Linked DNA regions of Homo sapiens. The protein of the gene in region 3 interacts with the protein of the main gene of each other region in a pairwise test. Each region holds a gene or a part of one and is shown on either strand. Other genes may lie near its edges. The genes, in order: CUTC, TRIM14, PIM2 and FBH1.

Evidence for each region.
Region 1: the proteins of PIM2 (region 3) and CUTC interact in a two-hybrid assay, tested with the Homo sapiens proteins (one large-scale study listed by BioGRID).
Region 2: the proteins of PIM2 (region 3) and TRIM14 interact in a two-hybrid assay, tested with the Homo sapiens proteins (one large-scale study listed by BioGRID).
Region 4: the proteins of PIM2 (region 3) and FBH1 interact in a two-hybrid assay, tested with the Homo sapiens proteins (one large-scale study listed by IntAct).

The regions. Positions count from the first base shown.
Region 1 is NC_000010.11:99,739,329-99,747,781, reverse strand, and holds part of CUTC (copper homeostasis protein cutC homolog), read right to left. Parts: intron 8,073-8,453; coding exon 8,013-8,072; intron 4,630-8,012; coding exon 4,420-4,629; intron 3,746-4,419; coding exon 3,710-3,745; intron 526-3,709; coding exon 392-525; intron 1-391. UniProt on the Homo sapiens protein: May play a role in copper homeostasis. Can bind one Cu(1+) per subunit.
Region 2 is NC_000009.12:98,083,271-98,090,408, forward strand, and holds the end of TRIM14 (tripartite motif-containing protein 14), read right to left. Parts: intron 4,736-7,138; coding exon 4,200-4,735; 3' UTR 1,083-4,199; downstream 1-1,082.
Region 3 is NC_000023.11:48,912,467-48,920,762, reverse strand, and holds PIM2 (serine/threonine-protein kinase pim-2), read left to right. Parts: upstream 1-1,738; 5' UTR 1,739-1,928; coding exon 1,929-1,989; intron 1,990-2,117; coding exon 2,118-2,227; intron 2,228-2,931; coding exon 2,932-2,982; intron 2,983-5,370; coding exon 5,371-5,743; intron 5,744-6,191; coding exon 6,192-6,368; intron 6,369-6,468; coding exon 6,469-6,632; 3' UTR 6,633-7,581; downstream 7,582-8,296. UniProt on the Homo sapiens protein: Proto-oncogene with serine/threonine kinase activity involved in cell survival and cell proliferation.
Region 4 is NC_000010.11:5,914,243-5,922,695, reverse strand, and holds part of FBH1 (F-box DNA helicase 1), read right to left. Parts: coding exon 8,427-8,453; intron 7,294-8,426; coding exon 7,125-7,293; intron 6,463-7,124; coding exon 6,240-6,462; intron 5,277-6,239; coding exon 5,189-5,276; intron 5,107-5,188; coding exon 5,020-5,106; intron 4,355-5,019; coding exon 4,218-4,354; intron 1,439-4,217; coding exon 1,339-1,438; intron 1,249-1,338; coding exon 1,127-1,248; intron 1-1,126. UniProt on the Homo sapiens protein: 3'-5' DNA helicase and substrate-recognition component of the SCF(FBH1) E3 ubiquitin ligase complex that plays a key role in response to stalled/damaged replication forks.

The DNA.
Region 1 (8,453 bases), on a different chromosome or scaffold from region 3:
TGGGAGGGCAAGGAAGGCAGATGGCTTGAGCCCAAGAGTTCGAGACCAGCCTGGGCAACACAGCAAGACCTTATATCTAAACTAAAAAATAAAAATAAAAAGTAAAAAAAACTGCAATGCCCATGGCAGAGAAAAGGTAAAATTTGCTGTGCTTATCCAAGTTAGATCAGATCTTTAGGCACTATCTATATGTAATTTGATCTTGAAAGCCTTGGTTATTAAAAAGGCTTGTGTGAAAGAAATAAGAATTATATACATTATTGCCTGCTTGCTTTTCCTACAGAGTAACCACAAAGTCAGTAATATATAGTCTCACAAACTGGCTAAACAGCAGAATGTCAGGAGTAACCACAACAGAGTCTTAGGGGAAAAAAAGATAAAGTCCACGTACCTGCTCAATGAGTCGCTTTATTAGGGGTAGCCCTTCTAATGCTGAACTGTCACATCCACTGGTCAACACGCGTTCAAATCCCAAGGTTAAGAGGGTCTCCAGAGCTGCCATTGGATCATGAACCATGTCAAAGGCTGAAATAAATAAAACTGATGTGAATTTTGAACAGGTATCTCTAACGCAGAGTTTCCCAAAATGTAGTATACATGCAGTGGCATGCTGGACCTAGCTTGTACTGGCTTACAAAGGCCAATTATTAAACACTCAAGAATTCTGCAAGTCAGATTGTTAATCCACTGGCAGCCTGAAATTAGTGAAGGTAGGGCCAGGTGCAGTGGCTCGTGCCTATAATCTTGGCATTTTGGGAGGCCGAGGTGGGGAGATCACTTGAGCGCAGGAGTTTGAGACCAGCCTGGGCAATGTGGCAAGACCCCATATCTACAATACAAAAATTATCTGGGCATGGTGGTGTGCACCTATAGTCCCAGCTACTCGAGAGGCTGAGATGGGAGGATCACCTGAGCCTAAGGGGTCGAGACTGCAGTGAGCCAATTGCACCATTGTGCCCTAGCCTGGACGACAGAGCAAGACTTGTCTCAAAAGAAAAATAAAAATTTAATTAATAATAATAAAAAAATTCAGTGAAGGTAGAGTATTTAAACCACAGAAATTTAAAAATGCTACAAATCAGGGCTCTTTTTTCTAGGAGCCAGTTCATCAGCACACCACAGTCTACATACCACTGTGCATAATCATTTTAATAATGGTACACATTTAAATAGTATATTTACTTAAATGCAGATAAGAAATGAAAAGTTTTCAATATAAAGTAATTATAAAAGTTTCTATTTAAAATAAATTTACTTTTTTTTAACTTTTTTTTAAGTTCAGGGGTACAAGTGCAGGTTTGTTATACAGATAAACCCGTGTCTTGGGAGTTTGTTGTGCAGATTATTTCATCACCAAGGTATTAAGCCTAGTACTCATAGTTATTTTTCCTGATCCTCTCTGTCCTCCCACCCTCCACCCTCGGAAAGGCCCCAGTGTGTGTTGTTCCCCTCTATGTGTCTATGTGTTCTCATCATTTAGCTCCCACTTATGAGTGAGAACATGTGGTATTTGGTTTTCTGTTCTTATGTTAGTTTGCTAAGGATAATGGTCTCCAGCTCCATCCATGCCTCTGCAAAGGACATGATCTTGTTCTTTTTTATGGGTGCATACTTAAGATTTTATTTAAAGAAAATGATTAAATAAAAATGTGCACAGGTAGCACTCATATATGGTAAAATTTTAAATGTGATAGGCAGGTGAGTCAAATTTGGGAAACTGTTCTAAGGCTTCAGAAATATTGGACTAGGTAGAATGAAACACTGTACTCACCAGTTCTAGAAAAAGCCTTGGCTCACATTCTCATTACTGACTAATATTTTGGATTAATCTATTAACCCCACATACTCAAGGTTCATAGCATAAGGGTAGTTGTTTTCAACAGACTATATGAAGTTTCACTTCCAACCTACTTTTTTTTGTTTGTGAGATGCAGTCTTGCTCTGTCGCCCAGGCTGGAGTGCAGTGGCACGGTCTCGGCTCACTGCAACCTCTGACTCCCTGATTCAAGTGATTCTCCTGCCTCAGCCTCCCGAGTAGCTGGGATTACAGGCATGCGCCACCACGCCCAGCTAATTTTTGTATTTTTAGTACAGACGGGGTTTCACCATGTTGGCCAGGATGGTCTCAATCTCCTAACCTTGTGATCCACCCACCTCGGTCTCCCAAAGTGGTAGGATTATAGGGGTAAGCCACTGTGCCCAGCCCCATCCTACTTTCTAAGAGATTTCTCCCCTCCTCAGAGCCCTCAAAGAGTAAAGTGGTATCAGGAAACTGAAAACAGAAAATCTACTTCTGCTTTGGTTCTCATACTGCTACATGACATTGAAGCTCTAGCCTGCAGTGGATTAGGTGGTAGTGGTCCTCTGGGACAGGCCCCTTCATTTCACCCTTTAGTGTATGTAGGCAACTAAATCTACCACAGAGGATTTCCCTATTTTGGTGGCAGCACCTTCTCACCACTAAAACTATATTATGATATCTCATTAAATACATTAGTGAGAAAAATGTGGAACCCAAAAATTCTACAAATTTTGAAAATATGAAAATATTTTTGTTAAACCTATTGGAATAAAGAACAGAACAGAAATTTGAAGTAAAAAAATTTTTTTTGACTGTAGACTTCTTTTCATGTGCAATGGCAGTGCTCTCTGAAGGCAAAATAGATACTTGTTCTTCCATTTTACCAAGGTGTAGCCTAAGAGTATAGAAATTATAACTACCTGATTTTTTGGCCAGGGGTGGTGGCTCACGCCTGTAATCCCAGCACTTTGGGAGACCAAGGCGGGTGGATCACGAGGTCAGGAGTTAAAGACCAGCCTGGCCAAGATGGTGAAACCCTGTTTCTACTAAAAATCCAAAAATTAGCTGGGCATGGTGGCAGGCGCCTGTAATCCCAGCTACTCGGGAGGCTGAGGCAGAGAACTGCTTGAACCCGGGAGGCAGAGGTTGTAGTGAGCCGGATCGTGCGACTGCACTCCAGCCTAGGCGACAGAGCGAGACTCCGTCTCAAACAAACAAACAAAAAAAATTATATCTACCTGATTTTTTACAGGAAATATTTCTTTACAAGAAAGTATCACATTAAAAAATCACTGTGGTGCAGACAAGCTATAATGAAAAATAATTTTGTATACTATTGTGGACATCTGTTCATTGACTAGATAGTCAACACTAGATTGCATCTGTTTCTCCTTTCTCCCTTCCTAATAAGACCCAATTCTTCTCCAGATACCCAACTTTCTCTCCCCTTAAGAAGTCTCTATCTGTGAAACCCCACCTCACTGCTAGCCCCAGGGATGGTTTTGCCTGGCTTAAGATAGACAGTACCTTTCATTTCACCAGCCACAACAATTTATTCTTTTGGGGTTGCACATGACCTAATACAGTCTCAGTTAAAATGAGTCTCAGGATTCTTGCTTGGAATGCTATGATAGGTACACACACTTGAAGGCAATACTTGCTCTCTCCCTCGCTCTCTTATATCCCACCACCACCTACACCCACTTTTAACAACTTTTCATAACTAAGGCTTCAAATTTTCTAGAAATTGCACATCTCTACTTTTATAACTTTTAGTCCTAGGATCTAAAAAACCAATTGGTAACCTTGGAACACTACAGAATTGTGTTCCATAAAAAGGTGGTGGCAGTTGTTGAAATTAGAAAACTAACACTGTTCAATAGAACTTTTAAAATGAAAATGACTCACCTCGGTGGAAAGTGACTGGCAGAGGGCGGCAAATAGCTATAAAAAGAAAGTCATATAACAACATGAATGAAGATGTCATCACTGATTACTATATATAGAATTCTCCATGTTAGCTGAAACTTTTTAATACTTTCTTCGCCTAACAAGACAGTAAACTGACATAATAATAAAATGGCAGCCTTACAAATTCAAAAGTCTTATCTTTCCACAAATCTCTGATTTTTATACAAAAAAATGGTCGTGGCTTATCACCAAATGAAAACCATTTAATCTGACAACTATAAGGGCAGCATTACATCTAATACTTGTCCCTCTGAGGTCATTCAATAAGTACTTTGGTTTAGTAACATAGGTAGTTTGCTTCTGTCCTCTTTGCATCTTCCAACTTGGTGGTCCATCCTCACCAACTATAATACTTTTGAAGTTCTTGGTGCAGTGGTTAAAGGAACCATGGTAAATTTCCCTTAAATTTCTATTCTATGGGAACAGTAGCGGAGCCTAATCTATAGCAATTGAGGAGAGTTAAGAAGGCTTTGCCACACATACACCCCACCCCAAACATCTAAATAACTACTATTTGAAATACTTAGGTTAGTATAAGTGTCTGTAGCTATGACCGCAAAGTCAGTTTTGTGATGTTGTTTTTCTATATTGTGAGCATAAATACAATTATCATTAGAGGCTTTTACGTCTTAGATACAAATTCTTACCCATAAGGGACATACACAGCTCTTTGTCAATGTGTCCATCTTCAGTCAATGCCCCAAAAACCAAACCATCAGCACCATAAAGCTTGGCAAGACGAATGTCAGCCTTCATCACCTCAATTTCACGATCTGAATACAAAAAATCACCTCCCCGTGGCCGAATCATCACAAAAACTGGGATCTGAACACTCTGCTTCACTACTTGAAGGACACCTACAAGAAAAGAAAGCAGATTAAAATTCAAATGTGAGCTAAAAGCCAATGATATATTATTGGTCATTTACCAGACAAAGATGGCTCTAAAAGGTAGGACAGACACTGAGAAGAAAAATGTATATATGGTAGAAGGTAAGTAATAGCAAAGGGTTAAATAGAACGATTTAGAAAACAGAAGATGCTACAATTTAAAAGCACTTGTCAGTTGACTCAACAAAAATCCTTATGACTCAGAACCCTTTTATTGGTAGGTGACATTTGAAAGTGCAATAACTACCAGGCTCGATGTTCTGCCAGTACATTATTCCCCAAGATCCAATTTCTTCTTTCTAATTCATTACAGCTCTATTTAAAACCTACTGGAGAGATGGTTAAATAGCTTCAAAGTTCATATTCCTTTAATGGGCAAAGACATTTAGCAAAACCTTTTTTTTTTTTTTTTAAACAAGATACGTGAAAGGGAGCAAAGTTCTACTTATTTGTGATTTTATGCAGAGATCTATGCATAAAAGTACCTAAATATGCCATAATAAGTGGCTAGCTCATAAACCATCAATAGTATAAGGCTGTGACAGGCCCCATCAGTTGTTTACCCAGTATGAATTTCTTTCTTTTTTCTTGCTAAAAGAACTCCAATTTTGCATAGGATAGCAGTTGTCCAATACTAAGCAATGAATCATAATTGGTGTTACAAAAACAGACTGTACTCAAATTTACAGACATGCTCTAGGGATTTTAGAATGGCCAGGAATGCCCTCTTTTCATGTGAAGATTCCAAAGGGCTGTTGTGTATACAAACTTTTTACATTAAATAATGCTATTATCAACCTCAGAGTAGCATAACTTAGGAGACCACAATTCATACACAGACTTCTGCTTTTGGCCAAGACAGGGTAACAGTGACTGGATTTACCCTCCCACCTATAATAATAATAATAATAAAAAAACAGACAAAATATATGAAACAGTGGTTTGCAAGACACTGGACATTAAGCAGTGAAGGGCAATGATCCTTGAAAATGGTAAACAATGAAGTTAGTAAGTCAATTCTGATTGACCCAATTTACTGCCTTGAGAGTTTCTAGGCCAAAGCACAGGGATGGGGGACCCACATGGAGCCAAAACAATTCCCTGAGTTAAGGAGACAAAGCTTAGAGTTCAGGAAGACTGAAGTAGCTAGAGTTTATAGGAGACAGTACAGGGAGGACAGAAAGATAACACTGGAGTAGCAAAGACTATCTCAATGGTTTAAAAAAAGGATTTTTTTTAAAAAAGATAGGCTTGGTACGGTGGCTCATGCCTGTAATCCCAGTGCTTTGGGAGGCTGAGATGGGTGGATTGCCTGAGGCAAGGAGTTCAAGACCAGTCTGGGTAAAATGGTGAGACTCCATCTCTACCAAACAAACAAACAAACAAATGTAGCTGGACATGGTGGCATATGCCTGTAATCCTAGCTACTTGAGAGGCTGAGGCAGGACAATTGCTTGAGCCCAGGAGTTTGAGGCTGTAGGGAGCTATGGTCACACCACTTCAGTCAAGCCTGGACAACAGGTGAGACCCTGTCAAAAGAAAAAAAGGAAGGAAGGAAAGCAAAGAGAGAGAAAAGGAGAAGGAAAGAAAAGAAAGGAAAGGAAGGAATGAAAGAAGAAAGGAAGACAGATAACTCTGGAGGTCTGCAGAGAACCTCCTTTAATATTCAGCTGAGTACTGACCGGTGCATGCATGCAAAGAAACTACGCAAGGCCTGGGACAGAACCAATAAAAAGGATTAGAAATAATGTGCCTGTCATTCATACCAAGCTGTGAATAATGCCTATTCCACCAGCCAGACAGGAAAATTTCAAAATTCATGGTCACAGGGTAGAGTTCACAGAAGAATCCTGACTCAGTAGTAAGGAATAATTAGCTCTGTATTAACCACTGCTCCAGACTTGCCCAGCAAATCTTAAAAGCAAGACCCAAAAGGACCAAACTGTTTTGGAACATTTGTAGGAATTCAAAAATGTCTAGTAACCAATAAAGTAAAATTCACAATGTCTTGCATCCAATAAAAAATTACAAGGCAGGAAAATAAGATATATTATTAGATGATAAATCAAATGAAACAAACCCAGAACTGATATAGATGTTAGAATTCGCAGACAAGGTCATTATAACAGCTATCATAACTTTATTCCACATGTTCAAAAAAGTTAAGAGACATCAGAGACATAAAAAGACTCAAATTTCTACAGATGAAGACTACAATGTATGAGATGAAAACATACCAGGAGAGACTAATAGCAGATTAGATAGTGCAGAAGAAAAGGTCAGTAAGCTCAAGGACAAAACAATAGCAACTATGCAAAATGAAAACACAGAAAGGAGATTTTCTTTTAAATAGAGAAGTTCATCAGTGACTTTTGGGACAATTTCAAGTAGTCTAATGTAAGAATAGCTTAAGTCTCTAAAGGAGGGAGTGGAGAACAAGCTGCAAGCTGAAAATTTTCCAAATGTGATGAGAAGTATAAATGCACAGGTCCAAGAAACATGAAAAAACTATACTCAGGTACACCATAAGAAAATTGTTCAAAACCAATAATAAAAAAATCTTAAAAGTAGGTAGAAAAAAGAGACATATTACATAGAGAAAAACAAAGATATGGATGATAGCTTTTTGTCAGAAACAATACAAGCAAGACGACAATGGAAAAACATCTTCAAAGAAAAAAAAAACCTGTCAACCTAGAATTCTATACCCAGCAAAAATACCTTTCAAAAATGAAGGAAAAAGCTATTTTAGACATATAAAAGCTGAAGGAATGAATCACTAGCATACTTTTTAACAAAAAAAGTTAAAGAAAGTACTTCAGGCAGAATGAAAATGAAACCAGACAGAAATACGGGATCTACACAAAGGAATAAAGAACACCAGAAATGGTAGTTGCATGTGGGTAAATATATGATTTTTTTCTTATTATTTAAATCTCTTATTTAACAAAAGATAATTGACTCTTCAAACAAAACTAACAATACAGCATGGAGTTTTTGATATATGTATGAGTAAAATATATGACAACAATAGCACAAAGACCAGGAGGGGATTTCAATATACTAAGGATGCCAGCATGGAAAGATTTTATAAAAGCCTAATCCTTGATGTTACTACAGAGCAGCTGAACCGGTATTAACAATTACCTACCTACCTTTCAACTTTTTGATGTGAGAAAGAAATATGTTTGATCAAATCTTTGATTTTTTTACAATCATAAACATTTCTGATACAACATCCATAACATAGTTAACATGACATTAGTAAAGGACCCCAACGAAACTGATTATCAGTTGCTTCCAGGCTCTATGAACTCCAATCAGAAAACCTGGGAAAAATGGACACTTACCCATGCTGGGTGTAGTTCCCCCCTCTGATAAACCAGAACATAATTCAATCCGATCAGCACCTGTAATATAAAAGCATTGCTCAACACATTTTTAAAAAATAAGCTGTTATTAAACAGCAACCTGTTTATATATATTTTTTCCAAATATAGAACAGTCTTAGAAATCATCTCAGAGAAATCAAATTATAAAGCTAGAGTAAAACTCTGTTTTTAACTCAGCTATACTCTGCAGCCCACATTGTGTTACTCATACTCAAATTTAAAAATTAATTAAAGTTAAGCTAGTTCTCTTAAATTTTTGTATTATAGGGTTGCCTCTCTATGTACAGGAAAGTAACATAGAATAAAGATGTTTCTTAAAACTGACTATAGTGGAATACTGAGTCTTTGTTGATAAGAAAATAACATAATATTTCCCAAAAGGGTCTTTATTATTCTAAG
Region 2 (7,138 bases), on a different chromosome or scaffold from region 3:
GCTTAGTGCACTGGCCAACAGTGCATTATAAACAGAGCACCAGAAGAAGGGGTGGTTCCAAACAAAGTCCATATCCTCCAGTTGCTGGGTGGCTGCAGAGAGGGGTGAGAGCTGGCTGCACATGTCCTTTCCTTTAAGCCTTCATTCTCACTTCCTTACAGCCCTTTACTTCTCCATTGTCTTTATCCCTTTCCTGCCCTTGGCCTCTGTGTTTAGTTGGCATTGTATAGCAGTCACTCCACATCAGAGAAAGGACTGGTCAAAGGATCTTGTAGGCAGAAAATGCTGAAAGCACTCCTTTCAGAGCAAAGAGAGGGAAATGGCATGTGTTCCTTCTCTGAACAAATATTGAGGGCCATCTTTGTGCCAGGCACTGCTTTAGGCACAGAGTATATGGCCATGAACAAGCCCCAATCCCTTCCTCAGAGAACTTCCATTCAGATGGGGGCAGATGCATAAAAATCCATAGCATAGTGATTCAGTCACACAATATGTTAGAAGGTGGTATGTGAGCCAGGCGTGCTTGTGTGAGCCTGTAATCCCAACTACTTAGGAGGCTGAGGTGGGAGGATTGCTTGAGACCAGGAGTTCAAGCTATAATACGATCTTGGATGGGAACAGGTGGGAGTCAGGGTTTGTTTACACGTAAGTGAGAACTTTAATGAGTTATCTTCAGAAGCAGTGAATGCCCCATCCCTGGAGATAGTTAATCAGGGAGCAGCTGACTACTACCAGAAGGCTGCGTAAGGAATAAGATATGAGTAAAGGCCCTTCTGGGTCTGGGTGCTAGGGACTTGAAGCAACATGAACTGGAGGGAGCTGTGATGTGGACACGCTGAAATCGGTGGGGAGGAAGCGGAAGATTCAAGGGACCTCAAGAGACAGAAGAGTCAGGACTGGATGACTCCCATTCATTCACAAATGTTTACTGTGTGCCTACTATGTGTCAGGTTCCTGTGCTGTACGAGGGAGAAGGTTCCCAGGCTGCGGATGATGTATTCAGGATGCTGAGGGCTTACCTGTGGGGGTATCACTGGGTGCTAGGGACTTGAAGCAACATGAACTCCCAGTGAAGACCATGGTTAAAAGGGACATTATTCACATTTTATTAAACCAAATATTAGAAAATTGCTGTCATTTAAAAATATCTGCAAGCAATTTGCCATATCAATAAAGAAATGTCTACAGATTCAAGTCTGAAAGAGAAGAAGGTAAGTGATCAGTAACCCTTACAGACATGGAAACCAAGGAAGCCTCATTCCTGTGCTGAGAATATTCTAGTAGCTCCTGCTGCTGCCACATGGCAGCTGGGAATACCAGTAGTCTCAGCACTCGGTCAGTACCGTGCAAGCTCCCTTGGGAATGCTGATAAATCCTGGCATGATACAGCAGTATATATGTTTTTTTTGTTTTTTTTGAGACAAGAGTCTTGCTCTGTCCCCAGGCTGGAGTGCAGTGGTGCAATCTCAGCTCACTGCAATCTCCGCCTCCTGGGTTCAAGCAACTCTCTTGCCTCAGCCTCCCTAGTAGCTGGGATTACAGGCATGCACCACCACGCCCAGCTAATTTTTGTATAGGACTATAGTTTTAAGGCAAGTTTATAACCTTTGGCTCATTTGAGCCTCACAGCACTTGGTAGGTAGTGCTATTATCCCCATTTTATAGATGGCACTGAGAAGTAAAAAGTGACTAGCCCTGGTCACACAATTGATATGGACTGAAACTGCCGCTTTCTGGCTATCACGGGCCTTGACACAGCTAGTTTGTGACCTTTACAGTCTAGCTCTGTCTCTGCTACATGAATCCCAAATTTTTGAATCAAGTTCCCCTCTGGGCCATAAGGCCTCATCTCAGACCCCCAAGGAAGGCAGTCCAAAGGTAGACTCAAGTCTCGCAGAGTAACCAGGCACTAGGAAAGCATCATGGGCAGTAGCTCCACGAGAGGGGCCAGAGCACCAGGCACTGGCCAGAGACCAGCTGCATTCACCCTGAGCAGTAGGGCCTGGTGGCCATGAGCACAGACCTGGAACTCACAGCCTGGGCCCAGACTCCAGCTCCACCACTAGCTGTGCGACCTTGGGCAAGTGACTCTGGGTCTCCATTTTGCCATGTGTAGAATTGGGAAAACTTTCTACCCTCTAGGGCTGATGAAAGGATCAGATGAGTTTAGTCGTAAAGCATTAAAACAGTGCATTATAAACTATTAAGAGCTGTTATTACTTGGCCCCTGCAGCTGTGGGTCTGGGAAGAGGTCTTGGTCATCAGGGATGGGCAGAAATGTTGGGGTCAAGTGTATTCATCTTCCCTCTGTCAGGAACACCCTCTGCCTGTCACAATTCAGTTTGGGCCATTCCTAATAGAATTAATTTCCCCTTTTTCTCAGGATTCCTGCAGCATAGTGCTTAAAACTCTGTCCAGCCAGAGTTTTAAAGTCTTTGGTTAGAAGTTAAGGTGTTTGCAAGGTTCTGTCTGCCTGGTATTCTGCTACATTGTCTCATATCAAAAGTGCCATTTTTAACTCAAAAACTATTGAAAATTGTCAGTTTTATATGGTTCAAACTAATGCACTGAAAGTCTATTTAAACCACGAGGATTCGGCGACCTTGGCCTCCCACCAAGCACCTATGAAGATGCTTTAACAGAATATAACTTCAAAACCGTCTAGGGAATTGACAAAACAGGACGCAGAACCTTCAGAACGGAGACACAAATCCCTGGAAAGAAGCCTCCCACTCCCTGCTAGCGAAGGTGGCCTCCTGTGAGGGCCTACTGTTTTCTACCTCTGTCACTTCATTCCAGACAGCTGGGCACTCTGGGTTTCCTTGGCAACATCTGGATCTAAGGGTGCTCTTACCCTTTTTGTCCCAAGACAGTTGGGAAACACCACCCCCTTTGGTTGCTTAGCAACTGTCACCTGCTGATTCCTTCCCAAAATCCCCTGAGAAATGAGTAAGCAGGTTGAAAGCTGGGCCTAAGGGCTGGGCCAGGGGACAGGTCAGATGCTTGCCTGGGGGTGGGTGAACGGGGCACACGTCTGGCCCCCCTATATCACCCCGGGGTAACTTTACGCAGCTCTGCTTTCTTTCAGGACCTCAGACTCCCCAGATGAGATCTGGCTGGGTGACCTGTGAGGCCCGCCTAACTCAGCTCTTCTGTTACTCAGTGATAGGCACCTGCTGGTTATTAATTCACTGCTTGGGAGGGAAGGGGCTTTCTGGGAACTTTTCAGGGTGGAGAGAGTATAGGACAAAGCTGCCCTTCCAAAGCCTCCAATTTAGTTGGAAAGACAGGTCCCAGATTTGTGGCTCTGATAGTGAGATTCTTGTTCCTTGGTTAGACTTCCTGGCGCAGGTAAGCCTGCGGAAGACTGAGACAGGTGAAAAGACTTTTCTGCATGAATGTGCTGGCAGCAGAGAGGTGTGGAGGTGGAACTATGCGACACATTTCTGACTGGAGAGTCTCTAAGAAGAGTGGTAGGAGCTAGGTGAGGATAAGTAATTTTGGGCAGACTAGACAAGCCTTGAATGCTAAGGTGAGGCGCTTGTATTTTTTTTTGTTATTTCATGGAAACTCCTGGAAGCCTTTTCATAGCTGAGGGGTTAAGTGAAGTTTTAGGAAGATCACTCTAGTTTTAGGGTGGAAGATGAGGACTGGGAGAGGGTTCAGACCAGGAACTGCTAAGAAGCTCTTGCAGCTTCTGGAGGGAGCTGTGATGTGGACACGCTGAAATCGGTGGGGAGGAAGCGGAAGATTCAAGGGACCTCAAGAGACAGAAGAGTCAGGACTGGATGACTCCCATTCATTCACAAACGTTTACTGTGTGCCTACTATGTGTCAGGTTCCTGTGCTGTACGAGGGAGAAGGTTCCCAGGCTGCGGATGATGTATTCAGGATGCTGAGGGCTTACCTGTGGGGGTATCACTTTGAAGGAACTGGATTAAAGTAGTGTAAGTGATGGTGGGGTGAGGGTGCGGAGGTCTGATGAGAGGGCAGCAGCAGACTTGTTTAGGGCCTGTTTGAAACTAGCCTAGGAGAGGAAACCTTCAAAGCACTGTAGGCGTGATTGGTCGGGGAAAGCTGGGGCAGGGAGAGGGCCCTAAGAAGCAGGCAGTAAGGGGACCAGCCACGCTGATCTAGGTAGATTAGGCGAGACTGGGCAGCTGCGGCGTACCTGGAGGCTGTCACGCCGGTCCTGGCCCCTAGGGCAGCCGGGGGATGCTGATGGCCCCCTCCCAGAGCCGCAGGGCCGGGTAGAGCGGCTCCTGGAACGTGGCGCGGAAGGTATGCAGGTGGCTCATGCCGCCCGTCACGTCGTAGAAGGCGAGGACGCCGGCCTCGTAGTCCAGGAAGACGCCGAGCCGGTCGAGGTCGTCGCGGGGCCGCAGGCGGCTGCGCTGGCCGTCGTGGAAGGCCCAGTACTCAAGGTCGTAGCGCTTGAGGCACCAGGACTGGCGGTTGCAGCCCAGGCGGGCGGCGGCCGAGGCCCCGCGGCGCCGAAGGGAGGCGTAGGCCGCGCCCACCCACCAGCCGGCGCCCGCCTCCTGCACGTCAACCTCCCAGTAGTGGCGGCCGGTGGCGAAGCAGTCACGAGCCAGCACTTGCCAGAGCGCGTCGAACCGCAGCACGGGCACGGGCCCCAGGCTGCCCAGCAGGCCGCAGCGCACCGTCAGGCGATCGGCGGACAGGCGCAGGCGCGCGTGCATCGTGTCAGGATCCAGCGTGGGCGTGCGCGCGTCTGCAGGGGGCGAGACAAGGGACGCACCTGGTGGGCGGGGCCAGCGCGGCGCCCCGCCCCCGGGAACCCACCAACGCACGTGCAAATCACAAAATGCGAAGCGCGGAAATGGCCCAAGGAAGGGGTGACAGACCCCTTTAAACCGCGACTGCCCCTGGGGCGGGGTCTTGGGGAAAGGGGAAGAAGAGATCACTCTGCTGCACATCCCTTATACTGTCTGTATTTTGTGCCGTGAAATTTGTTGCCAATTAATACAAATTTAATTAAAACTAATCCTATCACTGTTAACATTAGGGTGTGTGTACTTCCTATCTTTCCCCTCCCCTTGCTGCTTTATAGCTTTTCTTTTTCTTTTTTTTCTTTTTTTGAAACGGAGTCTCGCTCTGTTGCCCAGGCTGGAGTGCAGTGGCGCGATCTCCGCTCACTGCAAGCTCCGCCTCCCAGGTTCAGGCCATTCTCCTGCCTCAGCCTCCCGAGTAGCTGGGACTACAGGCGCCCACCACCACGCCCGGCTAATTTTTATAGCTTTTCTTAATATTGGTGTCACACCATACATGACGTTAGGTAATCTGCTTTTTAAAATTGATTGATCTACTTGTGAGGCATTTTGACACATCATAATATCCTTTCACAAGAGCATTTTAGTGGAGATTCTAAAATTTTGATGTTTGGACGCATAACTTAGTCCTCCGTTTAAAAAGCTTTTGAAACCACTAATACAATTACATTTTTACGTATCTGATTGCTTCTGTAGAATATACTCCTAAAACAGGAATTGCTGGGTCAATGGGTATTTTTTTAAGGTCTTTGATACATATTGCAAAACTATCCTCCCCAAAGTTTGTAGTGATTTAAACTCTCATTAACATTTCTCTTTGCATTACACCATGTATGTACACATGAAGTTTTTTTTGTTGTTGTTGTTGTTGTTTTTTAAGTCTGGATCACAGGGTATGTGGATATTCAGCTTTCATAAACAAGGCCAAACAGTTTTCCATGGACATTTGGATTGTTTCCGTGTTGCCTATTGTGACTAATGTTGCTATAACTGTAAACGTGTAACAGAGACTGAGTTTTCTAAGAAAAAGAGCATTTTTCTAAGAGAAAGAGAATGAATTATTTTTAAGATTTTCCCCCTTTTTCTCCTGTCTCCCACTTCCTACTTAGCTCTTTATTTTTATTTTTTTTAAGATGGAGTTTCACTCTTGTTGCCCGGGCTGGAGTGCAGTGGTGTGATCTCGACTCACTGCAACCTCGGCCTCCTGGGTTCAAGCGATTCTCCTACCTAAGGCTCCCTAGTAACTAGGATTACAGGCACCTGCCACCACGCCTGGCTAATTTTTGTATTTTCAGTAGAGACAGGGTTTCATCATGTTGGCCAGGCTGGTCTTGATCTCCTGACCTCCGGTGATCCGCCTGCCTCAGCCTCCCAAAGTGCTGTGGTTACAGGTGTGAGCCACTGTGCCCTGCCTCTACTTAGCTCTTTAGAAATGTAATTATAACCATTACCTTCCCTTCACCAGATAGTCCCTACAGGGCAAACTTATCTACCTACTTAGAGGGTCTAGAACCAGAACTTTCTCCCACCAGGAGATTGCCTTAAGAGACAACAGTCAATTTACAACATAAAGTATGCCTTCAACAGAACTCTTCCACCCGGACAGCATCTCAAGACAACGGCCACATTACAACCTAGTTCTGCCCTCAATGGCACCAGCTCAACCACTTGGTAGAAAACGCATCAAAATGAGTCATATAGACCCCCATCTGCTTGCTCCTTCCCTGCATGCCATTCATACAAAGTCCCCATTTAAAAGCCTCTGCTTTCTGCCCCAAAAGTGAGGCGGTACCGTTAAGGGCAGGAGGAGCCTGTACCTCTTCCCCTAAGCTAATCTTTAGAATAAAACCACTTTCTTTATACCAGACCTCGCTCTTGTTAATTGAACTCTGCAAAGCGTTGAGCAACTGAACCTGTGTTTCGGTCACATAACATTCTTGTGCAGGTCTTTTGATTCACATATGTATGCATTTCTGTTGGATATATGTCTAAGGTGGGAGAAAATGCTGCTCATTATAACCACTTCTATTCAACAATGTTCTAAATGTAGTAGACAGTAACTCAAGGCACGAAAAAGAAGTGAAAGGAAAGAATAAAGATCGGGGAAATGAAAGATTATTATTCATAGGTGACATGCTTATTTACACAAAAACCCAAATAATCTGTAGATAGCTTAGAAGTACTAAGTGAATTTATAACAGCCACTCAGTATGTCAATATACAAAAATGGATAAATCTCATATTGAGTGAAAGAAGCAAAACACAGAAGGGTATAGTGTGAATGATCTACTGAAAGTTCAAAAACAGGTAAAACTAACCTATAGTCCTAGAAGTCTGGAGAGTGG
Region 3 (8,296 bases):
TACCAACATCCCCATCAAGGCCTGGCAGGCTTATAGCAAACCACCCCCAATAACGTTGGGTGAACAAAGGAGAGTACATGTGTGCTTTTTTGGTGTTGTCTGTGTGTGTGTGACTGTGGTGAGTCCAAGTCTTCATGTGCAGCTCACAGAGTGTCCCCAGTTGTGTGTGTGATGAAGGGCTTGTTTCCAGGTGTGTCAGATGGTGACTGAGTGTGGGACTCTTATCTCTGACAGTTTGTGTCTAAATCCAAGATGCGTGCATGCCTGCGTGGGTCTGTCTGTGACAGTGCATCTGTGGTTTCTGTCTGATGGGGTGGATGTCCGTTTGTGTTCCTGCAACAGATTCTGGGTAGCTATTTCTGGACAGTTTGTTCCATTGATAAACTGCATGTGTCATGGTGTATGTATGTCTGTGTCTGAACAGGTCTATCCATGTCTGTTTTTGTGACACTGCCACAAAATGTGATTCTATCACATCAGTACATGTCTGCCTTCAGAGCAGTGCATGTGTGTCCCTGGAGCATCTGTGCATCTTCCTGTGACAGACTCTGCGTCTCTCATTTCTGGGACAGTACAAGTCTTGCTGTGACAGTGCATATCTGATGGTGACAGTGTGTTTGTGACAAGTTCTGCCAGTGTGACGGGACATTTCTGTGTCATCACATGGCAAATGTAGGTCTGCGTGAGTGCCTTTCTGTAACAGTGTATCTCTGGGTGTCATTCTAGGACATAACTATTTTTCTGACAGTGTGCTTGCCTGAAAGTGTATGTCAGTCTCTGGCTGCATGTGTATCTAGGTCGTTTCTGTGAATGTGTCTGACAGTATGTGTTTGTGTATATCTTGGCATTCATGTGTCTTTGGAGTGCATTTTTCTTCCTGGGGTGTGGCGCCTTTTCTGGCTGTTTTTCACAAATTTGTGTCTGAGAGTTGCCACTTCTCTAGCAGCCTCTATCATGTCTCTCAGTCCTTGCCTCTCTCAACTCCAAGAGCAGCCCCATGCCACCACCACTCTGGGCTCACCCCCATCCCCCAAGAACCACCCCCTGCTGTTCTAGATTCTAGACTTGCTGACTGGGCCCAGGGCTCAGGGTTAAAAGCTCCAATAAACACTCACCAGGCAATGCTGCCTTTGACCAATGCACACCCGTGGCGTTGATGGTAGGGGTTCCCCCTCCCTGGCTACCAGATATTTCCAGGGCCCTGGCCTCAGCTTTCCAGTGAAGGCCGCCAGTCGCCTGGAGGACTCCGGTGAAGGAGTCCGACAAGCACCTTTCGAGACGGAGTCTTGGATAGCCACAAGCGCGAATTCTTAGAAGCCCGGCCTGGCGCTATCTCTGTGCTAATATCCAGGCAGCGGCGGCAAACCAACTTCCCAGGAAAGGATACTGCGCAGTTATTTTTTAAGTGTAAATACACACACACACCGCCACCACTACCAACAACAACCCCGCGCAACAACCAAAACAAGCGCGGTGCTGCAAAGGGATTCCCAGAACCGGTTTCCTCTTGGTGTGAGCCCCACCTCAAGCCCCCTCATTTACATGCAGGCCCCGCCTCCTCGGAAGAACCGAGCGTGTATTTGCATAAGGGGGCCCTTGAAACGATGAGGGTGGTATGCAAATAAGAACTGGCTCCGATTGGCTGTGGTACAGCAGGTGCCGCGTCCGGATTGATCAAAGCCAGGTGGGCGGGGCTGTCGCCCAGGGTGACTCTCCCGGGAGGCGCGTGCCCAGGCTCAGTAGCATTGGGGCTGGCGCGCGCGGCGAATCTCAACGCTGCGCCGTCTGCGGGCGCTTCCGGGCCACCAGTTTCTCTGCTTTCCACCCTGGCGCCCCCCAGCCCTGGCTCCCCAGCTGCGCTGCCCCGGGCGTCCACGCCCTGCGGGCTTAGCGGGTTCAGTGGGCTCAATCTGCGCAGCGCCACCTCCATGTTGACCAAGCCTCTACAGGGGCCTCCCGCGCCCCCCGGGACCCCCACGCCGCCGCCAGGTGAGTACATCCTCCCCTACTGCAACCAGACGGGGTGGGCTGGAATGATGGGTTGCAGCGCGGGGGGAGGGAGTCGTGGCTGGGCTCAGCACGCCGCCACCCTGACTTCCTCGCCTCCGCCTGCGTAGGAGGCAAGGATCGGGAAGCGTTCGAGGCCGAGTATCGACTCGGCCCCCTCCTGGGTAAGGGGGGCTTTGGCACCGTCTTCGCAGGACACCGCCTCACAGATCGACTCCAGGTATCCGTCATGAGGGTCTTGGGAGGGTCAGGTGCGTGTGGCGGGGGCGGGGGTCCTGGCCCTGGAATGCTGGTTGACCGAGGAGTGAGCCTGCAGAGTGTGTAGAGGACCAGGTGTGTGTGTGTGTGTGTCCGTGTCCGTGTCCGAGGAGTGAGCCTGCAGTGTGTGTAGAGGGCCAGGTGTGTGTGCGTGCGCGTGTGTGTGTCGGTCTAGGAGGTTATGGGCGGGGGGGGGGGGCAGGGGGCTTCAGATTCCGGAGTTCCTTGACCCCGGGGTCCAGGCTGTGTATGTGTGGGAAAGCAGGGACCTAGATGTGAGATTTGTGGGACTTTTGGAGGTAGGTGTCCAGTGTGGAGTCATGCGGACCAGGACCCTGGTACAGAGTTGGGGTGTCGTAGAGCTAAATAGGAAGATTGTGGGCCTGGGGTATCAGGAAATCTAGAACTCAGGACTTGGAGTGATGAGTCCTGATGCCTGAGAACGGAGAGCCCAGGGCTAAGGAAGGTGGGAGAGATAAACTTGGTTCCGAGGACCTGGAGGGCAGGGGAGACGCCCTGGTACGCGTTCTGTGGGGTGCTGTGGTTGGGGACCAGAAAGACTAGAGTGCTGGTAGATGGAGGAATACTGGAGGTAGGCAGAAGGTCTAGACTGGGAGGGGTCTGGGGATCACCTGCTGGCCTCCTTATCACGGCCTTCTTCTCCAGGTGGCCATCAAAGTGATTCCCCGGAATCGTGTGCTGGGCTGGTCCCCCTTGGTGAGTACCTTCGGAGCCCTTCCTAACCTACCTACTCCATCACTGATGTATTCACCTCCTTGCTTTTCCAGGGGATGTATGACTCCCTGGGCCCTGTAACAGTGAGAATACTGCCAGCCCATTTATACTCCCTTGGGGTGACATACAGTTCTGATTCACCCCAATTCCCCTAGAGCCCTGGATTCTCCCCTCCAACAAACCTTTACCATCCTTCCTCCAAACACTGCTGGGGGACTGCCCGCAGGGCGTGCTGGTGGGGAACAAGGGGCAGAGGTCACTGGTTGCCATGGTGATGGTGGCTGCTTCTCTCTTGCCGTTATAACGCTAACGGACATCAGGGCGGGTCTGGGCAAGTTGTAGAGTTGGGAGCGCCCCCTGGCGGGCTCTAGGGGAAACTGCGCCTGCGCAGTCCATGGGACCCAAAGGGAGAGGGTGCGCCTGCGCAATATCGGTATTTTTGCATCTCGGTGAGAAAACGTCTGCTGCCGTGCAAGTCAGCAGCCTGGCCAGGAGAGGGCTCTACCTCATCCCAGAAGGTTGCTGCTCGAAGTGTACCTGCGCAGGGCTTGGGGAGGCAGTGGGGGGCGGATTTTGTGGCCCCCAGCGTTTATACTTTTTTTTTTTTGGAGACACAGTCTCCCTCTGTTGCCCAGGCTGGAGTGAGGTGACGCGATCTCGGCTCACTGCAACCTCCGTCTCCTGGGTTCAAGTGATTCTCCTGCCTCAGCCTCCCAAGTAGCTGGGACTACAGGAGCGCACAACCATGCCCGGCTAATTTTTGTATTTTTAGTAGAGACAGGGTTTCACCATGTTGGCCAGGCGGGTTTTGAACTGCTGACCTCAGGTGATCCGCCTGCCTCGGCCACTCAAAGTGCTGGGATTACAGGCATGAGCCACCACGCCCGGCTGCATTTATGACTTTTTTTTTTCCTTGAGACGGAGTTTCGCTCTGCTGCCTGGGCTGGAGTGCAGTGGCGTGATCTCAGCTCACTGCAGCCTCCACCTCCTGGGTTCAAGCGATTCTCCTGCCTCAGGCTCCTGAGTAGCTGGAATTACAGGCACCCGCTGCCATGCCCGGCTAAGTTTTACGTTTTTAGTAGAGACCGTGTTTCACCATGTTGGCCAGGCTGGTCTCGAACCCCTGACCTAGTGATCTGCCCGCCTTGGGCCTCCCAAAGTGCTGGGATTACAGGCGTGAGCCACCGCGCCCGGCCTCTAATTTTGTATTTTTAGTAGAGACGGGGTTTCTCCATGTTGGTCAGGCTGGTCTCGAACTCCCGACCTCAGGTGATCTGCCCGTCTCGGCCTCCCAAAGTGCTGGGATTACAGGCGTGAGCCACTGCGCAGGGCCACATTTAGGCTTTTTATTGGCTGGTTCTAGGTGCTTGGTGATGCTGACAAAACACATGATAACACTAAGTCCTTTTGTGCTAGGTCCTTTGTAATAAATCACTCAGCTGTTTAACAAATTAGGTATATTGACCACCTACTATATGACAGACATAATTCTAGACACTCAGCAAAGTATTACATAAGTATTGAGAGCTCATTTTGTGCTAGGTCCTTTTTTACTAATTGTTTTCACCTGTTTAACAAATATTTATTCAGCCCTACTCTGTTAGCAGCCACTGTTCTAGTGCTTCATATACGTCCGTGAACAAAACAAACCATTACACAATAAGTGTTTATTGAGTGCTAACTGCTTGTCAGAGCCCATGCTATTAAGTGCTGTCATCTGTTTAACATTTATTGATCACCTGTGTAAGGTACTATTCTAATCTGGGATATGTCAGGGAACAAAACAAAACACATAATGGTGGTGCTGCTTCTGCTGAAAGCCTTCAGTTGATAACCAGATTTTTCTTTGTATTTTTGCTTGTTTGTTTTGAGACAGCTGGAGTGCAGTGGTGTGATCTTCACTGCAACCTCTGCCTTCTTGGCTCAAGCGACCCTCCCACCTGAGCCTCCCAAGTAGCTGGGACTACAGGTGCATGCCACCAAGCCTGGCTAATTTTTGTGTTTGTGCCATTTTGCCCAGGCTGATCTTGAACTCTTGGGCTCAAGCAATCCACCCACATCAGCCTCCCAAAGTGCTGGGATTGCAGGGATGAGCCACTGTGCCTGGCCGAACTTCTTTCGTTTATTCAAATGTTTATTGATCTACGACATGCGAGATTTGTGCAGGCTCTTTGCTGGTTTCACCCTCTCAATCGCTGTGTGAGTTTGTGTCTTTAGGGAAAGTGAGGCCCAGGAAGGGAAGTGAGTTGCTTAGCGACACACTGTCAGGAAAAGGGGCCCTGAGTTGAGCTTAGGTAAAAAGCCTCAGAGCTGTTGCCCTGACATCTGTCTTTTTTCTCTCCCTGCTTCCCACCCCACCTGTGCCCCCAGTCAGACTCAGTCACATGCCCACTCGAAGTCGCACTGCTATGGAAAGTGGGTGCAGGTGGTGGGCACCCTGGCGTGATCCGCCTGCTTGACTGGTTTGAGACACAGGAGGGCTTCATGCTGGTCCTCGAGCGGCCTTTGCCCGCCCAGGATCTCTTTGACTATATCACAGAGAAGGGCCCACTGGGTGAAGGCCCAAGCCGCTGCTTCTTTGGCCAAGTAGTGGCAGCCATCCAGCACTGCCATTCCCGTGGAGTTGTCCATCGTGACATCAAGGATGAGAACATCCTGATAGACCTACGCCGTGGCTGTGCCAAACTCATTGATTTTGGTTCTGGTGCCCTGCTTCATGATGAACCCTACACTGACTTTGATGGTAAGGCTTCTCTAAATCTCCCTGGAGGGATTGTTTTTACTTGATGGCCTTGTGACCTTTGGCCTCCAGTGGTGGGGTGTCCTGTAATCCTTGACCCATACTGCATTATATAAGATGATCGATTGCTAATACTGGGGATTCTCAGCCTTGCCCTCTGATAAAGTCCATCTTTTAATGGTGTGCTAACCTTATTCTGGGCTCCTATTCTGGTGAGGGGATCCTGTTACCATCCTGAGTATTCTTTCTCTGGTAAGGGGATCCTGTTACTTTTCAGTGCTTTTATTCTGTTGAGGGGACTCTGTTATTTTAGCTGCTTTTTATCTAGTGAGGGGACTCTGCTTTTATCTTGAGTGCTCTTAATTGTGGTGAGGCCATCCTTCCTGGAGAGTTTGGGGTTGGAGAAGGGCATCATGAGATTGAGTTGGTCTAACCCCTGGCTTGTGTGCAGGGACAAGGGTGTACAGCCCCCCAGAGTGGATCTCTCGACACCAGTACCATGCACTCCCGGCCACTGTCTGGTCACTGGGCATCCTCCTCTATGACATGGTGTGTGGGGACATTCCCTTTGAGAGGGACCAGGAGATTCTGGAAGCTGAGCTCCACTTCCCAGCCCATGTCTCCCCAGGTGAGGCCTCACTGACCCCAGCCCAGAAGACTCCATCCTTCTCAGGGACCAGTACCCCCTACTGACTGCTAATCTTCCCTCTCTGCTTCTTGGCCTACAGACTGCTGTGCCCTAATCCGCCGGTGCCTGGCCCCCAAACCTTCTTCCCGACCCTCACTGGAAGAGATCCTGCTGGACCCCTGGATGCAAACACCAGCCGAGGATGTACCCCTCAACCCCTCCAAAGGAGGCCCTGCCCCTTTGGCCTGGTCCTTGCTACCCTAAGCCTGGCCTGGCCTGGCCTGGCCCCCAATGGTCAGAAGAGCCATCCCATGGCCATGTCACAGGGATAGATGGACATTTGTTGACTTGGTTTTACAGGTCATTACCAGTCATTAAAGTCCAGTATTACTAAGGTAAGGGATTGAGGATCAGGGGTTAGAAGACATAAACCAAGTCTGCCCAGTTCCCTTCCCAATCCTACAAAGGAGCCTTCCTCCCAGAACCTGTGGTCCCTGATTCTGGAGGGGGAACTTCTTGCTTCTCATTTTGCTAAGGAAGTTTATTTTGGTGAAGTTGTTCCCATTCTGAGCCCCGGGACTCTTATTCTGATGATGTGTCACCCCACATTGGCACCTCCTACTACCACCACACAAACTTAGTTCATATGCTCTTACTTGGGCAAGGGTGCTTTCCTTCCAATACCCCAGTAGCTTTTATTTTAGTAAAGGGACCCTTTCCCCTAGCCTAGGGTCCCATATTGGGTCAAGCTGCTTACCTGCCTCAGCCCAGGATTCTTTATTCTGGGGGAGGTAATGCCCTGTTGTTACCCCAAGGCTTCTTTTTTTTTTTTTTTTTTTTGGGTGAGGGGACCCTACTCTGTTATCCCAAGTGCTCTTATTCTGGTGAGAAGAACCTTACTTCCATAATTTGGGAAGGAATGGAAGATGGACACCACCGGACACCACCAGACACTAGGATGGGATGGATGGTTTTTTGGGGGATGGGCTAGGGGAAATAAGGCTTGCTGTTTGTTCTCCTGGGGCGCTCCCTCCAACTTTTGCAGATTCTTGCAACCTCCTCCTGAGCCGGGATTGTCCAATTACTAAAATGTAAATAATCACGTATTGTGGGGAGGGGAGTTCCAAGTGTGCCCTCCTCTCTTCTCCTGCCTGGATTATTTAAAAAGCCATGTGTGGAAACCCACTATTTAATAAAAGTAATAGAATCAGAAGCGGCTGGCCATTTGTAGGTGTGAGGCTTTTATGGAGCATCTACTGTGCACTGAGACAGACTGTCCCTCTGCTTTGTCCTCAGGAAGCCACAGTCTTATGTTGCCATCCTAAAGAGCTTTAAGGATTCTTGAAGCTGCACCACACACACACAAAAAAATCTTGATTCCCCTGCCCCTGATCTTATGCAGTGCCCAGTATGTGCAGAAGGGTTCTCTGTTGGAGATACTGTGCATATTGAAGGTGTTTAGGGCACATCCCCAATCAAGATGGCTATCTCAGAAGCAGAAAAACTACCTTCCCTGGCACCCCAGGGGAATGAAGAAGCCCTTTCCCCTGTTGCAGAAGAAAAGCCCTGTCAGGGTACTGGCCAGGGCGGGGCTGGGGTTGGGCGCTGACTGGAATCTGTCCAGGGTGTAGTCACCTGTTTTGCTCTTTATCTTTAGCCTCTTCCCCCATCTTTACCCTTACATACCCATCCCTCTAATTTCTCCTTCAACACTTGACTTACCTGGCCTACCCTATTCCATGTTGGTTTCACTTGTTCCGACCTGAGTTGTTCCCTCTCTTGCCCTGCTTATTTGTCTCGGTTCAGTATAAACTCCGCCTTCCGGGTTCCAGCGGTTCTCCTGCCTCAGCCTCCAGAGTAGCTGGGTACAGGTGCATACCACTAAGCCCGGGTAATTTTTTTTTTTTATTTGAGACGGGGTTTTGTCG
Region 4 (8,453 bases), on a different chromosome or scaffold from region 3:
TGTCATCTTTTAGGGAGGGACACATAAAACACTCACATAAAACAGCGGGCAAAATAACACAGTTGACATTATAACCCACAACCAGGTGTGTGATCACGTGTAATGACACATGGTACAGCTAGTAAGTGGATTTAAGAGAGGTGTAGAGAACCACTTACTTTATATCATGCCAGTGTGTATGATATTCCAAAAATACTACTCTTACAACAATGACCATGGCTAAATTATGTTATATCTACCAGACCAAATATTATAAGGTCATCAAAGTACTAATGAAAGAAAATATGCCTATGTGTTGAGTGAAAAACAGCATCCATTTCTGTGTACCCTACAATTGCAATTATGCAAAAATACACATCTATAAGGACAAAGACAAAAATAGCAAAAATGAGAATTATTATATGAAATACTGGGATTATGTGTTCTTTTTTTAGGTTCCAAAATTTCTATACCATTGTTATATAGTCTTTATAAACAAAAAACTTAAAACACCTTTTGATTATGATTCACTACTATATTCACTGAGTGCCTAATGCATAGTAGGCTCTTGAAAATCTTTCCATAAATGAATGAGTGAATATCTTTTTATCATATAACTGTGCTTCAGGGTTAAAAATGCTGTAAACATGCCACTGAATCCTTCTAACTCCCTGTGAAACAGGTAAGGCAAGGCATTATTTTATCTGAGATGGAGAGAATGAGGCATACAGAAGTTGTGACTTGCCCCAAGCCACACACGGTTAGTGACCAGTCAGAACTAGAGCCTAGGTGTGTACTCTGCGTGTTGTCAGCTCAGCTGTTCTCACACTAATGACAACACATGACTAGAAAAGCTTCCAGTAACCCGCGGCCTCACTGGCATTGCCAAGGGAAGAAGGGCATTCATTGTTAAAAGAGTGGAAACTAAGGTCCCCAGCCCTTCTTGTGTCTGCCTTTCCAGGAATGTTTCGCTGGCATAATCAGAATGGCCTGGGATAGAGACCACTCATGGTGCAGCCTGGTGGAAAGAGTCAAAAACCCAAATGCTTTCTTGCATGATAATCCCAAGGAAGGTGAACATTTCCATTGGGTATGTTCGTCTACAACGTTTCTGTGCATGAAGTGGTCAACAGAAATGTACTCTTACCCCAATCAAATGTATCCTTGAAGGGAATTCCCCTTCCGTCACCCGTACGGCCTCATCAAACACGTTGGCGTTGGTCCGGGACAACAAGGCCACTTGCCCCTTTGCGTCACCTCTAATGCCACCTTTAGGGAGAGAGCACAAACTCTATGGCAAATTGAAATAAAGAGGAAAACTTTTGTAACACAAAAGAGAAGAGTAACTAAAAGCCTTACTCTGATGGTTTCCTCCAACCAAAGTCTTTTTCCTGACTCTCTTGCAAACATCCAAGATAGTAGCTCCCACATAAGCTATTTCCACACCAAACCGAAAACTCTGAAAACAACAAGACAGAGGGAGTCAGCAGCCCGCCCTGTGGTGTGTCCGTGCATTTCCATCACTGCTGCCACAGCCTGGCCGGGCCAGACCCTACAAGTTGTTCCTGACCCCCCGCATGGAAAGCGAACTTCACAGGCTCACTTTCAAGGTCCTTCACAACTCAGCAGTCTTTATTTTCCATTATTCTCAACACCAATAGTAAATTTTTCTTTTAAGCAAATCTACCCTTTTCTCCAAATCAAATCTAGTGAAGTCTAAATCATACAAAAGATGAAGATCGGGTAAGGAGGGCTTCTCCCCTTGCCTTTGAGATCCCTCTCCACACTACCTTTAAAACTACTGCCCTGCACCAACCAGCCATGGCAGAAGCACTAGCACCTGCACATTGTCCGTGCTGCCCTGCCTCAGCCCACGCGGTTTTCTGTCTGACTTTCATCCACCAAAGTCACTTCCTAACCTTCAAAACTCAGCCCAAGACCCTGCTTCCTTCGCCCCTCCAGCTGGCAAGATATCATTCTTCCCTACACTCGGGGTGTGTACAGCCTTTTTCCATGCACACACAACTTCATGTGCTTTGGTGAATAGCAGTAACAGTCAAACGAAAACTAGACTTTAAACAAACACTACTTTGTTGCTATAAAACTACTCTGAGTGAACCATAACCGAAATTATAACATAAATATCCATGAGTTCATATTAAGATAGATAAATGATTGAATATTTAAATAGATGGGAGAGAAAAAACAAATCTCCTTTACAGAAGAATTCCAAATAATTTGGGAAGATTCTCCAACACTTACTCCTTGAGTGTGGACTGCATATAGGGACTTCCTTCCAAAGCATCCAGTAAGGAAAGGATGAAAAAAAGTGGAACTCTACAGTGAAGAAACCTGACAAACACTACATCAGCCAGGTGGTCAAGGTCAACATCAAGTCATGAGCCATGGTGACAGTATGCACCTCAACACCATGTGATGAAAATGGCGCTTCACCTCTGTGGTCTTCCTCCCAGAACCCAGGACTCTAGCCTAACCATGAGAAAAGACATTAGACAAATCCCAGCACAGGGGCAGCCTACAAATGCCTGACTGGAACTTCTGGAAAATGTGAAGGTCACATCAGAAATAGGGAAAGTCTGAGCAACTGTCACAGCCAAGAAGAGCCTCATGACACATGGTTACATGTAATGTGGGATCCTGGATGGGCTCCTGAAGTCACAAAAGACATTATTTCAAAACTAAGGAAATGCAAATGAACCATGGACTTCAGTCCATAATAATGTATCAATGTTGGTTCATTATCGTGACAAGTGTTCCACATTAATATAAGACGATAAGATGTTAGTAATGGGAAACTGAGTACAGGATATATGGGAACTCTCCTCTCGATTTTTCTGTAAATCTGAAACTGTTCTAAAAAAATACCATCTATTAAAAGAACAAATCACCTCTGCAGTGACGCTACCCTAAATCACCACAGCAGTAGGAGCTCAAGGGAAGAGTCACAGAGGCGTCTACGGAACTTTCAATAACATCACAAAACACAGCACAGTTGATACTTTCATCCAAGTGAGACATCTCTTCTAATCAGAAATAAGTTTCTTAAAAGCAGTGGTTCTCGAACTGCTGGTCTCAGGATGCTTCACACTTAAAAATCACACTTAAAAAGCCTCCAAAGAGCTTTTATTTACATGAGCTCTATCTATCTATATTTACCATATTATAAATTTTAATTCATTTAAAAATAACTATTAAAAACTATTTTTTTTTAAGACAGAGTCTCATTCTGTCACCCAGGCTGGAGTACAATGGTGCGACCTCGGCTCACTGCAACCTCTGCCTCCTGGGTTCAAGTGATTCTCCTGCCTCAGCCTCCTGAGTAGCTGACACTACAGGCGGGAGCCACCACACCTGGCTAATTTTTGTATTTTTAATAGAGACAGGGTTTTACCATGTTGGCCAGGCTGGTCTTGAACTCCTGACCTCAAGTGATCTGTCCTTCTTGGCCTCCCAAAATGCTGGGATTACAGGCATGAGCCACCATGCCCAGCCAAAAGCCTCTTATATGATGACATAAAGAACATATTTTTTGAAACATATTTCCGAGAACAAAAAAAAATGCAGCAAGAAGAGTGGCACCATGTTCCATTTTTGCAAATCTCTTCAATGCCTGGCATAACAGAAGACTGCTGGCTTCCTGTGTTCACATCTGCATTGCCTGCTGAGATATACTGTCTTGGCTGACACACATGAAGAAAATTCAACCTCACACAGACATGTGATTGGAAAGGAAGGAGCGCATAATAAACTTTTCGCATAATCAAGGACACTGTGAGTTGTCACATTCATTATGGGAGAGTTTGCCAACATTTTAATTTCACTTGAAAGCAAAGATGTTACTTTTGACAACAAACACTGTCAGTTATTTTCCCTGAAGTCGCAGCTTGTTTCACTTGTCTTTGAAAAAGTGCCAAATACACAAGTCTGAACAACCAGCGCTGGTCTAACAACTGTTCTAAGCACAAATGTACAAGGCGGCAGCAGCCATCGGTTCACAGTTCAGCCGCAGCAGCTCTTCCTCAGACGACCGCTGTGCACACACCTCTTATGAAAACAGTGTGACTTGGCAGACCCCTGAGAACCACACTTTGAGAACCATGGCTTAGAAGCAAGGATTTGCTAGATCTGGTGAGCCTGGCATACCACCTTTCACAGGGCCTGGCACGTAAGACATTGGGAGAGAGATGCAATGCCTCCCATGCAGAGTGCGCACTTACCTGCGTGAGATAGAAGACGTGGGTGTGGGGCACTGTGAACAGGGCGTTGACCGCACCCCGGAAGGTATAGATCTGCTGGTGCGGGTCCCCTACAAAGATTTTCCCACATGGCTGAGACAGAACTATGTTCATGATAGCTGTAACCAACGAGAGGAAAAGTGAGAAACCTTGAGGCCTCCACCCCAGGCAGCAAAAAGAAAAGGACAAAAACACTTCCACGAAGCTAAGCCAGGGCACACTGGACCTCACGGTCGCCTTTTCCTGTAGGACAGGCACACTCCATCAAAAGCAGCCATTTTATAATGGACAAAAGAAACAGTTTCTGGTGCTAGGAATGCAGATTATGTTTCGCCTTGGATGAATTGTTGGAATATAAGAAAACAACACAGGCAAATCTAAAATGAGGCAGTGTCTTCTCTAATATTATAGCACTCAAAATTGACCTACAAAGTCAGACGGATAACACTGTCTGTTCTCTCCTAGCCACTTGAGAAGTAGACAACACAAGCTTTTCCCTGTCAATGGACGATCTCTTCCCACAGAGCATGAGTCTAGGTCCCTGTCGTCTGCTGGTCTACAACTTGGTCAACATGTTAAGAACAACCTAAGCAAAACCTATGGTGACAGAGAAATCTGCTTGGGTGAGGGGAAGGGGCAGCTTGAAATCCTAAGGTAAGTATGAAGATCCTCTTCTTTATCACAAATAATAATAATCAACTTAGTTCACACAGGTGTCCTCTTACATAATCATGGCGCTGTTTCTACGTATTTGACACTACTGATGTCCTGAACAGTGTATCACCTGGTGTGCAGTCCTGGGCCTCATCCACAAAGATGGCGTCAAAAGAGGCCAGCGAAGGCTTGCTCAGCTGCCAGAGTTTCAAGTAGCCTAAAATAAGGAGAGACGCAGGAGTTGTAACGCCAGGAAGGCAGTCCCATTGGCCAGTCCCCGCCATTCGGCAGCCGCCTACCGTCATGAGTCATCTGGTGCGCCTCTTCTGTGCACTCCCCCAGCTTCCGCATGTTATCCCAGAGGCGGCTCGCTTCAAGGACACCATTCTAGGAAGTAAAGCATATGGTAACCCAGAGTTTGAGACCCTGGCAAAGGCAGCACCCTGCGGTCACACTGTCAACTCCCATACAGCAGTGGAGCCAGGGCATCCTCACAGAAGGGGGACCGCAGACACCACCCTAACCTCCTGGGTCTCCTCAACAGCCTCTCCACGCCAGAGGGTCTCCAGTGCTGAGACAGGAAGCAGCCGGGCCGTGCCATGCCCGTGACAGGACAGAGATCATAACAGTTAGGTGAACCAGAAAAGGCCAAATTGTTCTTCTAGATTTATGACTGATGCTTAATTCACAAAAACAATGGCACATGATTGAAAAGACTTGATGAAAAAAAGAAACAGACTTTCCCACTAGCAAAATCTATTCCATAGAACCAATAACCCAAGAAAATCAGGAGAGATTCCAGCCTTCAGTTAAGATCAGTTTTGAGGTCCAGGAGCCCCAGTGACAAGCTCTTATAAACTGAGGCGGGTCGTTCCATGTCTGCCTTCTCTGTTAAATGGGAGGACTATTCCGAGGCTTAAGTGAGATGGTCACCAGTGTCCTTCACAGGAGAAAATACCCAACAATTCACAGCCATCACCATGGGCCTACAGCCTCACCCTCCCACCTTCAACCTCCTATGACCAGGTCTGAAGAAATGAAAGAAGAAATAATGCTGTCCCACACTCCCTGTTTGCCCATCCTCAGATCCCTAACACTTCCCGTTCCCCCATCCTCAGATCCCTAACACTTCCCCTGATCCCCCATCCTCAGACCCCTAACACTTCCCATTTCCCCATCCTCAGATCCCTAACACTTCCCGTTTCCCCATCCTCAGACCCCTAACACTTCCCCTGTTTCCCCATCCTCAGACCCCTAACACTTCCCCTGTTTCCCCATCCTCAGATCCCTAACACTTCCCCTGTTCCCCCATCCTCAGATCCCTAACACTTCAGACACTTAGACACTCACCAGTTTTTCACTCTGCTCAACCATGACTCTCTGTCCTTGGCTGTTCTTACACCAAATAGGCACGTGATCAATGGTCAGCTCTTCGTCAGCCGAGGCAAAGAAGTTTTCTAGAGTCTTACACACAAGCTTGGCTCTTATGAATCCACCCTTCCCTTCAGCAAGGACGGAGTTGACCATGAAGGGTGTTAACTTGAAGAGATTCAACTTCTTCTTTGACTGGTACCTGCAATACCCATCCCAAATGAACAGCACGTGGCTCTCCTGGCTTGGTGCTATTGAACGTCCCCTCCATTCTCTCTAATGTCACCAGGAGGTAGCTTCAAGTGCCACACACAGGCGAGTGTTAATGTTTTAAAGCGAAAAAGTTCTGCATGGTCCATGTCTGACTGGAAATGGCTTTCAGGACTCACATGTACCAACCCAGAATAGGAACCAGCTTTCGGCAGACACTGCTATTCCACCATGAAGCTGGGCTCCAGAAGGTCCCCGGAGGGACCCTTGGAGTTCCCTGATGCCTCTACATCCAGGAGACCTGGGTCAAGTGTGCCTCGGCTGAGTCTTCCTCACTCCCTTCCAAGAAAAGCCTACAACTGATCAGGATTTGTGAGACTCTGAACTTTAAGCAAGTCATTTTGACTTTCTGTGCCTCACTTCCATGAGAACACCCCTCTTGGCAAGACGGCATTATATGTAAACAATATGTTGCTACAGGATAAAAGTACAAATGGCTAAACCTATGTATTTGTTTCCTGCCTGTAAGTGGAGATAACAGCACTACACTCCTCGGGGTCACTGTGGTGTAAGCTCACATGTGATCGTCACGGGAAAACAGTAAGACGCGACCGTGCCAGCAGCAACAGTGCCACTAGTGACAGCAGTACTCACTTCCGCCCTATGTGCCCGTAGGCCATGGAGTGGAAGGTTTTGCAGATGACGTTGCTGGGGAAGACGCGTTCGGCCTGCTTTGCGATGCTCTTGTTGAATGTCACATACAGAAACCTGCTCTGAGACCACTTCTCTGCATACTTGACCAGCGTTGAGGTCTTCCCAGTGCCTGGGGAAGCCAGGAGGAAAGGAGGTGACCCTCTGACCAGACAAGACATGCCCAGGGATCCCCAATCAGGCCTTGTCCAGGCTTATCACACCTCTGTCTTGAGAGCAGGACAGTAACAAGTTTTTCAGTGCTGGTAAAAGTAGTGCCACCAAAAGAGCAGCAGATTCAAAGCCAGGTGAAGGTGGGCTGGGATCTCAGCTGGGGCAGGCTCCAGCCGAGGGGCAAAGGACAGGTGGACCCCTTGACCTCATGAGCTTCAGTTTGCTTCTCAGAAATAAGTGGGTATCCATTAGAGGTAGGGTTCCCGAGGGCAAAAAGGACCCCTCAGGATAGGAGGGTAGGGTTAGGGAGGGGGAAGGCATGTCTCTGGAGAGAGACAGGTCCAGCTTTGAATTCCACCTCCACCACCTATCCACTTATTCAACCCCGGGCAAGGCTCTCTGTGCTTCAGTTTCTTCCTCTATAAAACAAGAATAACTAAGCAACCTTACGGAATGCTATCAGGATCAGCACAATGCCAAGCACACTGCAGGCATTCAAAATGTTGTTGTTGTTGTTAGCAGGGTATTTAGCCACAAAAGGAGCAGGAAGGGATTACAGGCAGAAAAAAAATAGCAAATAGCACGAGCAAAGGCTGTGATGAAAGAGTAACCAAGTACTTCAGGAGGCTGTGAGTGGATCGGCGTGGCTGACTGAGGCAGGACACTTGTAGATAATATATTTATGAATGTAAGTTAAAAGCCAATCTAAGGCAGGCCCTCTAGACATCACCCTATAAAACTGGGGAGCTCCTGAAACCCTGGGCTGGGGATTAACATGCCCTCCCTCTCCAGAAGCAATCAGTGCCTGAGCAAACATCACAATGCTGGGCTCAATCCCGGGGGCATCTGCCCGACCAACTAACTGCTGTGAACTACCTGTCTCAACAGGAATTCTGTGGATGTTCATGGAGTGGTCCGGGGAAGTAAGTATTCCTTGGCCAATTGCTTTTGAGATTGATTATTTGATCTGTTATTGAATTATTAGTTGGATGACAGATCAGAGCAAAGATGCCCTGGCAGGTAGCGGGAAGGGGATGTAGGGAGAAAAGGCAGAAAACCACCACCTCGTGAACCTGATGTGGGCTCCCTTACCGGCAAAGGCCATAATTTTCACCACCT